Linked DNA regions of Homo sapiens: region 2 is linked to region 1. A link means that fine-mapping ties the variant in region 1 to the expression of a gene that starts in the linked region. Tissue or cell type: whole blood. Region 1 holds a variant in brackets; the other region holds the start of a gene. All regions are shown on one strand. Distances are between the middles of the regions.

The links. PIP is the estimated chance that this variant, and not a neighbour inherited with it, causes the effect.
Region 2: HK1 starts here. The variant in region 1 is fine-mapped to the expression of HK1 in whole blood (TOPMed, PIP above 0.99).

Annotation. Positions count from the first base shown.
Region 1 is chr10:69,339,771-69,347,770 of GRCh38, forward strand. It overlaps HK1 (hexokinase 1), which reads left to right. Exons shown (of 18, transcript NM_000188.3): 2 at 4,057-4,219. Among named protein-coding and RNA genes, the nearest start is that of HK1, 25 kb to the left of the region's middle. RefSeq lists enhancers at 1-58, 3,647-4,500 and a silencer at 5,105-5,234. The variant C/G (reference allele first, on the strand shown) is at 4,071.
Region 2 is chr10:69,315,457-69,323,692 of GRCh38, forward strand. It overlaps HK1 (hexokinase 1), which reads left to right and starts at 3,391. Exons shown (of 18, transcript NM_000188.3): 1 at 3,391-3,554. The coding sequence starts at 3,492. RefSeq lists enhancers at 2,405-2,634, 3,925-3,974, 5,560-6,476 and a silencer at 2,945-3,624.

The DNA of each region.
Region 1 (8,000 bases):
GATCTGCCTTCTGCAGAGCAGGGGACCAGTCTTTCTTAAGGGGCAGGGATGATTGTATGGAGGAGCCTTAGACTTGCAGGTATAAAACCTCACTCCCCCAGCTGTGTGCTTTGAACTAATCACTTAGCTTCTTGGACCATCAGTTTCTGTGTCTGTAAAATGGGGATTAAGAACATCTCCCAGACAGTTTTGAAGGTTAAATGACATACTGGATCTTGATATACTGATATACTGTAAGCCACAAGAGAATTATATAGTATTATTCCAGGATCCAGCATTGTTTGAATTCCTCCTTTGTGTCAAGCAACTGGGTGAGTTCCAAAGGTCTATTCAATATGTTTTCTTTCCCTGGGGAACTCACGCAGTATCATAGGAGATGGACAGCTTGGTAAAAGGATAATCATGATGTGTGAGGAGTGTGGTCGTTGGGGCGTGTCCAAAATGCTGGAGTAGCAATGTACCTTTTTTAAAATTAAAATTAAAAAAAATTTTTTGAGATGGAGTCTTGCTGCATTGCCCAGGCTGGAGTGCGATGGCGCGATCTTGGCTGACTGCAATCTTCTCTACCTCCTGGGTTCACGCGATTCTCATATCTCAGTCTCCTGAGTAGCTGGGATTACAGGCATGCACCACCATGCCCAGCTAATTTTTGTATTTTTAGTAGAGACCGGGTTTTACCATGTTGGCCAGGCTGGTCTTGAACTCCTGACCTCAGGTAATCCACTCGCCTCGGCCTCTCAAAGTTCTGGGGTTACAGGCATGAGCCATTGCTCCCGGCCTTAAAATTAAAATTAAAAAATATTTTAGAGGTGCGATATCACTATGTTGCTCAGGCTGGTCTTGAACTTTTGGGCCTAAGCAATCCTCCTGCCTCGGCCTCCCAAAGTGCCAGGATTACAGGCATGAGCCACTGTGCCAGCTAGCAATGTAGCTTTTATTGTATGATCTTGCGCTTGCTCCTCCATTCTCCACGCAGCAGACACACAACTCTCATCATGGTTGTAATCAGTAAAGCCGTCCCAAGGCTCGCTGTGCTGTGGGATCCCGCTTGTATTTGTTTATGTGGCTCATCAGGCCCTGTGTGGTTGAGCTCTGGACAGTCTTTCCAGGCACACCGTCTGCTTGTTCATCACAAAAACCACCCTCCCTCCCCTTCGGACTTCACACATGCCCTTGCTTGTGCCTGGGCATGCTCTCCAACTTCGCCTCTCCAGGAAGCCTTCTCTCCCATGCTTGCAACGTGGCTGTCTCTCCCTGCAGACCCAGGGCACTATGATGGCAAGGGCTGCTGATGAATGCCACCAGCCAGAATAGGGCATGGCTTGTCTCTCCTCCCAGGGCCATGTTTTTGGCAATTTTATTTCCTTTAAAAAATATATATACATATTTCTTTCTTTCTTTTTTTTTTGGAGACTGGATCTAAGTCTGTCACCCAGGCTGGGGTACAGTGGCAGGATCATAGCACCCTGCAACCTCTGCTTCCCCAGCTCAGGCAATCCTCCCGCCTCAGTCTCCCGAGTAGCTGGGACTACAGGGGCGTATCACCACGCCTGGCTAATTTTTGTATTTTTTTAGAGACGAGGTTTTGCCAAGTTTCCCAGGCTGCTCTCGAACTCCTGGCCCCAAGCAATCTGCCTGCCTTAGCCTCCCAAAGTGTTGGGATTACAGGTGTGGGCCACTGCTCCTGGCCAATTGTTAATTTTTTTTTTTTTTAGAGACAGTCTCACTCTGTCACTTAGGCTGGAGTACAGTGGTTCAATCATGGCTCAATGCAGCCTCAACCTCTTGGGCCCAAGTGATCCTCTTGCCTCAGCCTCCCGAGTAGCTGAGACTACAGGTGTGCATCACCATGCTGGGCTAATTTTTATTTTTTGTAGAGACAGGGTTGTTGCCCAGGCTAATCTCGAACTCCTGGGCTCAAATGATCCTGCTGCCTTGGCCTTGCAAAGTTCTAGAATTACAGGTGTCAGCCACCATGCCTGGCCTCTTCTGGCAATTTCTATTCTGGCTCTTGGTGGTTCCTGATTGCCCTTCTTTGAGCTGCTTTATTGTAAAGGGAAAAAGGTGGTAGGGCTAGTGGTTAGGAGTGGGGGCAAGGATCATCCTTGGGCGCAGAGAGTGTTGGCAGACATTTTGGGAGGCCTAGGTGGGTGGATCACTTGAGGTCAGGAGTTTGAGACCAGCCTGGCCAACATGGTGAAACCCTGTCTCTACTAAAAATACAAAAATTAGCAGGGCGTGGTGGCGCACGCCTGTAATCCCAGCCACTCAGGAGGCTGAGGCAGGAGAATTGCTTGAACCTGGGAGGTGGAGGTTGCAGTGAGCCAAGATTCTGCCACTGCATTCCAGCCTGGGTGACAGAGATAGACTATGAAAAAAAAACCAACCCCAAAAACAAACAAACAAACAAACAAACAAACAAACAAAGGAAAAAACACCAGTGTTAAGGTCTTTTCAGCCTTGTGGGGCTGTAAATCTGTCTCTCTATCCAGTGGGAGCCTTCTGTGTGCAAGGCTCCATGTGAGGCACTGGGGAGGTCAGGGTGACACGCATGGAAAGCTGGGATCCAGACCAGACCCTGCCTAGGGGTCAGTGCTGAAGGAGTGGTGATATCCAGCCTGAAGGACTTGGACATCTTCAGGAGGAAGTGACAGTTGATTTGAACCTTGAAGGTTAGGTGAGCTGGGAAGAAAAGGAAGGGCATTTCAGGTAGAGGTGACAGCAGAAGGAGGAGAGCCTGGAGCACCTACTAGGAATGGTAGAGGTGGTTTGGCCGGAGTTCAGAGAGCACAGAGCCACACCTGCAGAGGGTAGGTGCCTTGGCAGTGGGGAGGCATTGCAAGGCTTTGGGCAGAGGCATGACTTGATTAGGGTTGCACTTTAAGAGGCTGATGCTGCAGTGGTGTAGAAGATGGGTTGGAAGGAAGAGATTGAAGATAAACTGTTACAGTGGATCATCAGCAATCCAGGCACACAGAGCAGCAGAAAGAGTGGATGGTGAAACAAAAGAACCTTCCTCGGTGGACTCTACAGGGATAGTGCCATCAGGACAGGTGTCTAGCTCAATTCTAGGCACCTAGCTGGTGCCCAGTGAATCCTTTTTTGGGAGAATAAATGCGAAGATGCCATGAAGGACAAACAATTAGTGATAGCCAGTGACAACCCAGGGTGCCTAAGGTTAGGAGCCTGGGCAGCTTGAGGAGAACGGGGAACTCAGGAAGAGGAGCAGGTTGGGTCAGGCCTGGTGAAGGGTGGGAGTAGTTTGACTCGGAGGTGCAGGGCCCATGGCCTGGCACACAGGCCCGGCACATGGGTATGGGAGCCCAGGGGCTGTCTCCATTCATTGAGGCTGGGTTTAAGGTTTCTGTGCTCTGGGCCTGCCACCCTGTGTTCTCAGAAGGGTCCTAGCCCTTTGGCCGCCATTTCTGTCTTTCTAGAAGTCTTGCCCATGGACACCTGCCAGTACTACTGTCTCATGTTAATAATAATAGCTGATGTTTATTGAGCAGTTACTGTGTTCTAAGTGCTTGTGTCTCATTTGAACTTGTCCTATATGTTAGGTCCTATCTATCATCTCAGTTTTTCAGTTGAGGAAACTGAAATTCACACAGCTGTTAAGCTCTGGGGCTAGGATTGAACCCAGTTGGCTGGCTCCAGAGCCCTTGTTCGTAGCCTCTCTGTCATTCCCATCCCAGTGAGAGTGAGCCAGCCAATTCTCAGAGAGAGAAGGAGGCTTGAGGTGTTCCTGATACTGGAGGAAACCTACCTCCATCAAGTACTTGGGGGTTGAAGAGCAGCTTCCATGTCATATTTGAGGGTTGGAAAGGATCTTAGAGATATCGGGTTCATTTTACAGGCCAGGAACTAGGGCTCAGAGCATTTGCAAGCCTGTTCTGGGTGACATGGATGACAGCAGTTGAATGACCTTCCGCCATGCGATGTGCCAGCGTGCGTGTTCCTGTGCCTGTGGGAGCTGGCTATCTCAGCGGGTGGGTGCCTCACCTTGCCCTGTCCTCCCCCTCGACCTCACTCTCCTTCCTTCTCATCCCCCTCCAGATTGACAAGTATCT[C/G]TATGCCATGCGGCTCTCCGATGAAACTCTCATAGATATCATGACTCGCTTCAGGAAGGAGATGAAGAATGGCCTCTCCCGGGATTTTAATCCAACAGCCACAGTCAAGATGTTGCCAACATTCGTAAGGTCCATTCCTGATGGCTCTGGTAAGTCTGTCACCCAGAGATTGAACCCTGAGGGCTAAATGTTCTGTGAAATCTTCCTTCTAACTTCATTTGTTCATACATTTGCTCATTCATTCATTCACCATTCCATCAATCTGCTCTCCCATCCATCCATCCATCCATCCGCTGATCCATCTGCTGATCCATCCATCCATCCATCCATCCGCTGATCCATCCATCCAATATGTGTCTACTGAGACCTTATGCCAGTCACTGGGGATACCATGGTTGGGCAAGGCTGACCTGCTGTCATTGACTTTACTGTCTAGTGGCTTGTGATACTTTAGAAAGTGTAGTGTTTATGGGTCTCGCAGATACTGTGTGGGTTGCTCTTATGTCTTCAGAACATGAAGAACTCCAGAACAAATGAAGGGTTCATTTTAGGGAAATCTCTCCATCAGGGAATCAAAGCTTCCCTCTCTTCTTATCCCAGATAATAGCAATCCTAATGGACAGGTGGGTCTCAGACTTAAAGGCAGAGATTCCAGACCCCCTTTGGACAGATTTCACAGATGCAGAATTGAGGCAGCCCCCAAAACAAAGAAATACAGAGGGGAGGTAGAATTGAAAGAAAAATTGTATCCTTTCACTCTGCATCCTGTGGCTCATACCCTGCAGTGGGGCGTTGGGGGAGGGCCCCCTGAGGATTGTCTGTTTCTCCTCCCCAGAGGAGTGGTATCAGCCCCTGCACCTGGCTGAGCGGAGACTGAGAAGTCGCAGTCTGGCCTGCTCAGTGGAAGCTGTTCTTCCCGGCAGACCCGCAGTTACTAGTTTGTGGAGGTGAATGCTGTGCTTGCTCCAGCGTGGCGCCCTCACAGGAATCCCCTGTTAGCTGTGTTCTGTGCTCTAGGGTGGGGCTCACCTGCTGTAGGCAGCAGAGGGAGGGAGAGCAGGAGGAAGTCAGGTTTCCCTTGGGGTTGTGAGTACACGACCAGTGAGTACAGCTTTCACACACCCCTGCGATTTCTTCCCTGCTCTCGAGGCTCTTATTTAAAGGAGTGATTTGGGGCATCTTGTATGCAGCCTGCAAAATGGACGCCAGGAAACTGCAGCTGTTGCAACTGATGTTCTTGAAAGATGGGCAAGTGGGAGTAGGCTGGTTGCAGCAGGAAAAGACCTCTGCTCTCTGCCTGCAGTCATCCTGAATGAGATTTGGACGCTGATAAAGAGGCCTTGTGCTGTTCACTGTGGCCACGGGTGGGGTCTACTTCATGCTCACATATTAGCATGTATATCTCTGATGTAAGCCTACTCCACCTCCACCCTTTTGTTTAGGTGTTGATTACTAGCACCTACTTCTAGCTTTTTAAGAACTACTGAAGAGATTCTGGCCATCAGAGTGAATAGACTGTGGTCTACCCTGGGTGTGTTCGCTTGTCTCTGGCTGGAGAAGAAAGAACTTTATATATAGTTCACTCTTGCTTTTTCCCAGCCATGGATGTCACCTACAGCCAGGAGCACTGGAACCTTTCCAGGATGAGGAGAGCTATGTAGCAGAGGCATGGCTCTGACTGCTTCCAGCTGAGAGAAGAGGAAGGAGCGGGGAGGGGAGGGGGTATGGGCAGCACCCAGGAGAGCACCTGCTTTGGCTTTGCTTGGGAGAGCTCAGAAGGCTACCTGATCCCTGCGAGGCACCTGGCCCTGTGTGACTGGCTCAGGGCAGACACAGGGGAGGAGACACTTTGCCTCCTACCCACTGGGCCCTGCTCTCAAGCCAGCTGTGTCCCAGGGACCTATGTCAGCAGGGGTGCTCTCCCTCTCCTTCACAAACTGTTTCCAGGATTGAGAGTCTCAAGGTGTGATCCAAGTGCAGTAGAAATCCAGCCATTTGCCATATTGGCTACTCCTCCAAACAAGGCTTAGAACTCATACTCATTTGTGAAATGTATTTTTCACCCCCTTTTAGAGATTCATAGAAACGGCACCCCCCCATTCCAAATATTTATGGGTGGGTTCAGTTCATGTGCCCCAGAGCCCACACTTCGCTTGCAATGGTCCCTACAGCCCCGCAAAGACATTGCTGTTGATGCTAAGGACTTGGATACCCAACCCCCAGTCCACTTCCTGCCCCTTCGTGTTGTGCCGGGCTTCTGTCTTCACCTCCCCCTGCCTCTTGGCTCCTTTATCATCCAAGAATCAGGAGATCCCTGCAGTAATCAGAATCTGGGTCTCTTAATAGTAAATCCATAGTGCTGTTCCCTTTTTGAAATGTTAATCACTGCTTCAACTGTAGTAATTAGTGACAGAATTAGTGGTAATCCCAAACCACGGAGGGATAAATTGGCGCTCACCATGGTGGAGCAATGCCTAAGTGGTGATGTGATTTCCAAGGCAAAGGAAGGAAACAAGCCTTTCCTTTCTTGCTGACCTTGACCCTGGTCGACTAGACACAGAGTTTTGGAACTCAACTGACTTTCCAGAAGCATTTCTGAAAACATATCTGATACATACATTCTGATACCTATCAGCCCATTTTTAATTAGTTTCTTTCTTTTTTGGTCATTTTTTTTTTAATGGGCAGTGAGGTTTTTGTTTTTGGTATTTTGTAGAGATAGGGTTTTGCCATGTTGCCCAGACTGGTCTTGAACTCCTAGGCTCAGGCGATCCTCCCACCTCCCAAAGTGCTGGGATTACAGGCGTGAGCCACCTCACCTGGCCTGTTTTTATTTTTATTTTTTAGTTGTTCTTCAATAATCTGTATATCATTAAAAAAACCCCAAAAACCTAAAGTGGCTTTTTGCTGCTGCATATCATTTTTGAGGTAGTGGATGAATGAATAATAAAGAAGGAAAATATTGAAGCCTCTTAACATTGGTGATTTGGCTAAATAGAATTCCCTCTTCAAAGCTACTGTAGGGAGCAAGGGAAAACGTCCCCTTTGCCCTCTGAATGTTGGCTGAAAAATCAGCTCACAAAAGGCAGATTAATAGGAGAAAGGGCATACACATTTATTAACATGCATGTGGGAGAATCACAGACTGATTACTCAAGTATCCCGGTGGGGCCCAGATACTTACATTTCCTCTTTTCTTTTCCTTTTTTTTTTTGAGATGGAGTCTTGCTCTGTTGCCCAGGCTGGAGTGCAGTGGCACGATGGTTCAAGCGATCCTCCTGCCTTAGCACCCCCTACGTAGCTGGGATTATAGGCACCTGCCACCATGCCCAGCTAATTTTTGTATTTTTAGTAGAGACGGGGTTTTGCCATGTTGGCCAAGCTGGTCTCGAACTCCTGACCTCAGGTGATCCACCCGCCTCGGCCTCCCAAAGTGCTGGGATTACAAGTGTGAGCTACTGCGCCCGGCCACACATTTCCTCTTTTCAGAGGGGAGGCAGGAGACAGGGAACAGTAAATGATTACTAGGGAGAATGAAGATATCAGGGAACAGAGATTAACCAGTACCGGTTCTCTTTGGAAATTGAATAGGAGACAGATTTTTTTTTTTTTTTTAAGACAGTCTCGCTCTGTCGCCCAGGTTGCAGTGCAGTGGCATGATCTCGGCTCACTGCAACCTCCGCCTCCCGGGTTCAAGCAATTCTCCGGCTTCAACTTCCTGAGTAGCTGGGATTACAAGTGCGCACCACCACGCTGGGCTAATTTTTGTATTTTTAGTAGAGACGAGGTTTCACCATGTTGGCCAGACTGGTCTCGAACTCCTGACCTTGTGATCTGCCCGCCTTGGCCCCTCAAAGTGCTGGGATTACAGGTGTGAGCCACCACGCCCGGTTTAGGAACAGACATCTTTAAAAAGGTCCATTCAGGTGT
Region 2 (8,236 bases), 24 kb before region 1:
GAGTTCAGGGGACTTGAAGGGAAGTGGAGGGCCATCTGGAGAGGGAGGGAACTAAGGACTCCCTGTGGGTTGGGGTCTTCCTGAGGATCCAGGGAGTAACTGTCAAGGAGCCTTAGCAGGGATCTAAGAGCTATGCAAGAGCAAAAAGAGGCAAATTATTAAGGAAATTAGTGAAGTCAGCACTGGAACAACAGAGAGGGGACACAGCAGTGCAGCATGGGCCCTGGCCTCAGGAAGCTGTCTGATTGGGGCAGATAGGACCAGCCCCCTAGAAGACAGTCACCCATATCAGTTAGGCAGTCATGACTCAGTGTTACTTATCTGAGGCCCAGGTTGCATGAGGGGTTGGGGGTGGGATGGACAGAGCACTGGCTGGGCATCAGGACTAGGCTGGAGTCCTGGCTCAAAACTCTACCACAACCTGACACTGGGCAAGATGGCCCACCTGTGGCATCCCAGGTTCCTGCCCTGTAAAGAGGAGTCTGGGTGTATATCCAGATGGACTGTGAGCACAGCCTGAGTTTGCCCTGTCGAGGTGCTGAGGCCTGGGAGATTGGGGTGAGTAGCTGTGGTCCAGGGAAGGTTGGCAAGCTGGGCCTTAGATGAGAGGGGATGCTTGGTCAGGCAGAGGTGAGTGGAGAAGGCAGGGCAAGGAAGGGAATATGAGCGGCGAACAAATGGAGTGGACATGGTGGGGGCAGAGGATGGTGGGAAGTGGCCTTGTTGCGGCCAGAGTGGAGGAAGAGATAAGTGGGAAAGAGTGGAGTCGATTACAGAAGGCCTCGGAAACCAGGCAGAGATGTTTAAATTGGCTCTCTCAGGAAGGAGAGGGCCATGAAGGGATTTAGGGAAGGGTCATGACATGATTATGCTGCATTTTAGCAGGATTAATGTGACCTGGTGCTCAGAATGACTTGGATGGCATGAGGCCAGGAGCCGAGGAGGACAGTTAGAAGACTCTTGTAATATTTCTGGCACAGGGAGATGGACTGGGAGTTGGGAGGTGGCAATAGGTCAGGCCTAGAGACATTTCTCAGGAAATATTGACAGGCCTTGGGGCCTGGTTGCATTCATGGAGTGGGGAGGAATGAGTCACCTTGAGAAGCAGTTTCCCTCTCAAAGGCCAGGGAAGACAAAGCAGAGGCAGCTTTCCTGCCTGCAAACAGGACATTTCAGGGTAACCTGGCTCTTCCAAGCGTCAGCTTCTCCCTGGCTCCAGCTCAGATAGGAGTTGTAACAACGGGTTGGGCATGGGTGATGGCACCGGCTGGTGGCTGGGTTAAGGGCCATGTTTTTGATTATGCATTAGGCTTATTCAGCCTGCCAAGTGCCAGGCCCTGCGCTTGTGTAGGAGACAGAGCAATTAGCAAAACATAGTCCTCCATCCTCAAGGAGTTTCCAGCCCTGTGAGCTTGGCAGATCTGCAGAACTCAAATGAAATGGCAGTTGAGAACAACCATCTTGTTCTCATTCACTCCATTTTGCTTAACGGCCATGTAGGTAGTTCCAAATGTTTGATGTGTACCAGAAAATCTCTCTCTTCCTGGTTTATAATTATGATCCAGGGCAAATCCAGGTTTTGTTGGGCTTGAAAATTAAATAAATTGGCACTCTCTATGGAAAATAATTCAAATATAAATATACAAATATCACACTGCTAGGCCCTCCCAGGGCCTAGAAGGGTAGGAATGAAAGTGAGAGTCCCTGAAGCTTTAACCGCATTAACTTTTCAGTCAGTTCTATGATACCTGCCATTCCTTAAGTGTGTATTATGTGCACGTATTTTGCGTACAGTATTACACAACAATCAAGGGGAGGTGAGGTGGGCATTAGTGTCTTCATCTTATGGATGAAGACACAGTCTCAGAGGTGATTCAAGATGCCCCTCTGCATAGGCCCTAAGGCAGGGGGTGGGGACTGTGACCTGGACAGGAAGCTGGGGCCTCAGGACTGCATCTAAGCTCCTCCTTTTCTGTGGGTGATGGTGGCTGTCAGGCCCCTGAACCTACGTCATCCCTCCCTCTGATTTGACTGTACCTTTGCTAGGCCTGGTCAAGGGCTAGGGACTCCTAAAGTCAAGAGCTAGGGTAGAGGTTGGGGGTTGGATCTCAGGGCACCATATGGTGCAGACTTGGTTGCAGGAAAGTGACCTATTTAGGCAGAGGGGCTCTATACAACTGGGACCACAGCAAACCCTAGAGGTGAGCACCTGCTTCAAAGACTCACAGATCCAAGCTGTGATCCTAGATCTACAACTTCCTGGCTGTATAAAGTCCAGCAAGACTGAGGCCTCACTGAGCTTCAATTTCCTTACCTGTCTAACCAGAATAGCAACAACTTGTTTGTATATTTGAGCTCATTACATGTCATTTTGTAAGGCACTAAAGCTCCTGGAGGCTTCCGGAACACAGAAATAATTAATCTAAGAATCCTAAAGTGGCTGTCCTGGTAGCACCTCTAGGGAGTCCTCCCATCCTACGTAACTTCCTCTGGGAAAGTAGAAAACACGGCACCTGGGAAGGGGCGCTGAACCGTGCCCCAAGTCCCAGTGGGCCTGGATGCCCAAGAGCAAGAGGAGGCCCAGAGGATGGGGACAGGCCACGACCTGTGGCCCAAGTCCCGCCCAGAGGGAGTGCGCCCTGAGGGAGAGCCACCGGAGCTGGTGACTCGGGGGCGGGTGCTCTGGGGTGTCGCTTTGGGTTCAGCAATACAAATCTGCCAGCTGGAGATTAGGCGGGGCACGCCGGGGAGAGGTGATGCACTGCCGCTGAAGACCCAGGTAGGCCGGTGCGTTCGGCCTGGGTGAGGAAGGCGCGGGACCCGGGTGCGAGGACTGCGTAGCGTCCCCGGCTCCCGCTTCCGCCCGCTTTCCACGCCCACTTCTGCAAGTCCCCTCCGGCACCTCGGCGTCCACCGGACTCCTAGGGGCGAGCCCTCATTTCCGAGGAATGGGACCGCCTTCGTGCCCCCGGGGCTGCCAGTCCCTAGACTAGCCCTAGGGGCTTCTCGTCCCGGCGGAGCCGGGCGGTGCCTCCTGCCTGCGCCTCGCACCTCCCCGCCTGGCACGGCCCACCCGGGCACGGCGCCGCCACGCGTGAAGGCCCGCATCGGCTCCCTACGTGGGGGACGTGCAGGATGATGCGGGGTCGGGGGGGATTTCGCTGCGTCGCCCGCCCCCTTTCCGGCGCAGGAGGGAGCGGCCGCCGCGTCCCCGCTCCCCGGCCGGGACGCCACCGCCGGGCGTTGCAGAGGCGCGCCGCAACCAATGGGCGTGGAGGAGGTGGGTCGGCTGGCGGCTGTCACCCTCCAGGGGACGGGAGCGCGGAGACCGGGAGCGCGCGAGCTGTCGCCGCGCCCCGGGCCGAGGGGGAGGAGCCGGGGGAGGAGGAGGAGGAGGAGCCGCCGAGCAGCCGCCGGAGGACCACGGCTCGCCAGGGCTGCGGAGGACCGACCGTCCCCACGCCTGCCGCCCCGCGACCCCGACCGCCAGCATGATCGCCGCGCAGCTCCTGGCCTATTACTTCACGGAGCTGAAGGATGACCAGGTCAAAAAGGTGAGCCCCCGCCCGCGCCGCCGCTGGTCCTGGCCGCAGCCTTGCGTTCCGGCATCCGCTCGCCGCCTCCGCTGCCTCCATCCTCCGGCGCCCGGCCTTCTCCGGGCCAGCATCGAGTTGGACTGCAGGGCGCAAGGAAAGCCTTCGCCTTCGATTCTACCGGCATTGTCAGTGTCTCTGTGTGTGTGCGTTTTTGGGAGGGGGGCAATCGGGCGGAAGACCCCCGAGACCGGGCTGCCTGCTGCAGTGTCCTTGAAACGGGCCCTGGATGTCAGATAGGCCCCCGGGCTGTGCGGGGAGGTGGCCGGTGGGCCCTTCCGCAGGGCCTGTTCGGGAGGGTCCGAGCGCCGTGGGAGGAGGTGTGATCATGGAGATGCTGGGGAGGTGATCGAGCAGCAGGCGGGGGTGCTGGCTGGAGGCCAGGCCTCCCATATTTGGGGTTCCTGGCGGAGGGTGTCGGGTGCCCCGGAGAAGCTGTCGCCGGGCTCTCCCAGTTGTTTGAGCTGCTCGTTAATCTGAGGACGAGGTGACCCGCCCGGCTTCCCGGAACGGGGAGGGGCGGCGAGGCCACCGGAAACTTTGCTCATAGGCCTCGTGTCTGGAGCGGCACGTCTGAATGGAATTTTTTATTCCTCTTAAGCTGTAATTTCTAGCCAGCACAGGAGCTCAAATAAGCGACTGGTCATTTGAGTTGGGTGGACGCCTGTGGCATGCTTGTTCTAGCACTTGGACGCATGCATCCTCCTGTCCTGAGGTGTTGTTGCCTTTGACATCTTAGTGTAAAATACTGTCCGCTGGCAGGTCTTAAAGGTGTATTTGTCTCTTCTGCCAGCTGTGCTACCATATTTTAAAGAAACAGCCTAAGCTGTAGGGAAAGACGCCCGTTTTATCAGTGCCAGGTCTGGTACAGGCTCCAGGCCCACCCACCCTGAACGTGGTGACGTTATTGCTGGGGTTAGCTGGGATGGACTGGCAAAGTCATCTTGACTTTGGCGTTCAGACAGGTGGAGTTCTACAGGTGAAAGGCAGGAGTGACAGGCCTTGATTTTCTGCCCGGCAAGCCATAGGGTGTTCCATCCTCTTCCTGTGCATCTAAGATGACTCCCTCATCTGGCACCATAGGAAACAGGCCTACTGAGGGCAGCGACCTTATCAAGGTCACCCAGTGAGTTAGAGGCAGAGCCAGTCAGGGGGATCCAGGTCTCCCAGTGCCTCCACCCAGGAACTTCACCAGGGTCCTCCTGGAGGTCAGCTTCCAGGAGGGAGTGGGTACTGAGAGACAAAGCCGCTGGGGACCCTGCCGTGATCTTGGATCCCATGGTGGGTGGGGACCGGGAGTGAGGTAGGTAGGAGATAGGCTTGGGAATGCCATCTGCCATTGCTCTTTATGGCTTTAAGCACTCTGGGGTTGTCAAACCGTGGCACTCGAAACACTTGCTCCTATGGAGCACCCTGGAGCTTCCCTCTGGCCACTGACCTGGGAGCTGTGCGTGCGGGTGTGTGCATTTCATGAGTTTTCTCTAGTGGTGTTGTGCATCACTGATGTTCTTCCCATTGGACCAGGGAGACAGTTCTCCCGGCATGGCAAGAAGTGCCCAGAACAGGCCTCCTGAAGCCAAGAGTTCACTGTCCTCCTGCACGTGGTGTCCTTTATAGCTCAAGACAGTGGGCTGCTGGGCTGGGGGGTGCCTGGGTGACCTTGTAAACCTCCAGTGTCCACACCCACCACCACCCACAACAGACTGCTGGCTGTTGGCTGCCGGTGGCCTCCAGCAGCTGAGCTGGGCTGAGGTTTGGACTCCATTCAGTGGGACATGTTTTCTCAGACATACAGTGTCTAGGGTGGGCCCAGAGCTCTCCACTCCTGTGGGTGGCTCAATTCACATCTATGGATGCACAGTCTATCTCCTAGGCCCCCGTAGGTACCTGAGTGTGTGATTCAGTTGACCCTTCCATCCCTCCTCACTCCGAGTTTGGGATTCTGATGTTCTTCCCTTCTCTTCCCCGAGAACCTTGCTGGAGGAAGGTCTTAAGGCCAAGGTTTCCACCAGATATTATTTGTCAAGGAGATTCTTAAAAACAAGATGTTTGCTTGCATTTCACCACGGACTTCCTATGCTGCTTTCTATAGGGGAGTACGTGGATTCCTGCCAGGGGGTCCACTCATTTTGCATAGTGGACTGTGTGGCACAGCCATCTGTGGGTGTGGTCCTGGCTATGATTGCGCCACCGCACTCCAGCCTGGGCCTTCTAAGGACAGTGACATAGTGGGTACTTGCTCCAGTGACCTACTCAGTTTTGCCCAAGTGTGCAGATGCTGGGGACCACATCTGCTCTTCTGGGGCCCAGGATTTCTTAGAGACCAGCTCTTTCCACGTACCACTCACCATAGGAAAGGCTAGGTGAAGGTGCGGGACCCCCTGTTCTTCCTGTGGGGCTGGACTCTGCCTGCCTCCCAGCAGGGACCTGCTGAGGATGGTTCCCCCCCAGCGTGGGCAGCCATGATGATTCAGCCCTCCAGCTGTAGGCAGCCTCCGGGGCTCTGGAGACAGACCTGGCATCCCTCAGTAACTCTCATCTATCTTCTTGCCCTCAGAGCCAGAGGTAGGAGAAGGGAAGCTGGGGACCATGCCGGGGAAGTTTTTGGGATTGCTTAGAATCCAAACGTGATCATGAAAATGGTGTCATTTCTTTCTTCATTGCCTATGAGGCACATCAATAATTCAACTCCATAAAAATATATCCTGGGTTGAAACAGTTCAGGTGTCTGACTTCCCAGCTTGGAACCCCATTATCCAGACGGCATCTGCATAAATTGGTTAATGGGTGCTGTTGAAGAGGGTGTACTGGCATTAGGCTGAGCTAAGCACAAAACACATATATTCCTTTCACTCTTCTAGTGCCTGTAGGAGGAAAGGGAGGCATATGTGTGCTTGTGAAGGATTCCATTCATCAGAATCCCAGACATCTGCCAGTTCTGCAGCTAGAGGCTGGGTTCTTTGACCTCTAAGTAACTTTAAACACGCATCTCATCTCGCCAGCTTCTTCCACTCGGTTTAGCCATTAGGAGCTTGGAGCAGGGTGAAGGATTGCATAGTGCTCTGTTTGTTTAGAAAGGGAAGATGGGTCCAGGAAGGTCAGAACTTGGCTTCTAAAGAAAGATTAGACTTCCTTTCCTCCAGGCTTGTCAGAATGGTGAGCAAATGCCAGTGGATTTTCTCTGGGCGAGATCCCCATAACGCTAAGTGATTTCCACTAGTAGGTGATCATGAAAAGGGTGTCATTTCTTTCCTCATTGCCTTGAGGCACATCAATAATTCAACTCCATAAAAATATATCCTGGGTTGAAACAGTTCAGGTGTCTGACTTCCCAGTTTGGAACCCCATTATCCAGACGGCATCTGCATAAATTGGTTAATGGGTGCTGTTGAAGAGAGTGTGATTTGTCCAATGGCCGAACTCAGGAGTCCTTGAGTACTTGACCCAGGAAGACAGGGGAGAGTAGGCTTAGCAATTAAAGGGTTGCCCAAGGTACATTCCTTAGAGCCTATGTGTTCCAGCTGCAAAAGCAAGCATTAAAAATAAATAAATAAATAAAAGGCCGATGTAGTGGCTCACACCTGTAATCTCAGCACTTTGGGAGGCTGAGGCGGGTGGATCACCTGAGGTCGGGAGTTCGAGACCAGCCTGACCAACATGGAGAAACCCCGTCTCTACTAAAAATACAAAATTAGCTGGGTGTGGTGGCGCATGCCTGTAATCCCAGCTACTTGGGAGGCTGAGGCCGGAGAATCACTTGAACCTGGAAGGCAGAGGTTGCGGTGAGCCGAGATCACGCCATTGCACTCCAGCCTAGGCAACGAGAGCGAAACTCCGTCTCAAAAAAAAAAAAAAATGCCCATTCATTATTGCTCAGGGGTGAGAGAGGTGATAGTTAGAAAATTGTGAAAAATCTGGCTGGGCACAGTGGCTCATGCCTGTAATCCCAGCACTTTGGGAGGCTGAGGCAGGTGAATCACGAAGTCAGGAGTTCAAGACCAGCCTGACCAATATGGTGAAATCCCGTCTCTACTAAAAATACAAAAATTAGCTGGACGTGGTAGCATGCACCTGAAGTCCCAGCTACTCGGGAGGCTGAGGCAGGAGAATTGCTTGAACCGGGGAGGCGGAGGTTGCATGAGCCAGGATCATGCCACTGCACTCCAGCCTGGGCAACAGAGCGAAACTCTGTCTCAAAAAAAAAAAAAAGAAAATTATGAAAAATCTGTGGGTTCTTGCAGTGGCAAAGAAAAAAAAGAAAAAATTATGAAAAGTCAGCCTGGGCAACAAAATTAAACCTCATCTTAAAAAAAAATTTTTTTTAGCCTGCTTTGGTGGCATGCACACACCTGTAGTCACAGCTACTCAGGAGGCTCATTGAGCCCAAAAGATTGATCCCAAAACAGTGAGCTGTGATGCTATGATTGTGTTACCGTACTCCAGGCTGGATGATAGAGCGAGACTCTGTCTCAAAAAAAAAAAAAAAAAAAGAAGAAAGAAAATTATGAGAAGTGTCTCATAACCTCTCAATTCTGATGTTGTACAAATATTCAGTGAGAGCTTCTTGGTGAATCTTGACTTTATAATCCCTGCCTTTCCTACCTTAGATACTCCTAGGGTTTCTCCCAAGAGAAGCCCCATCA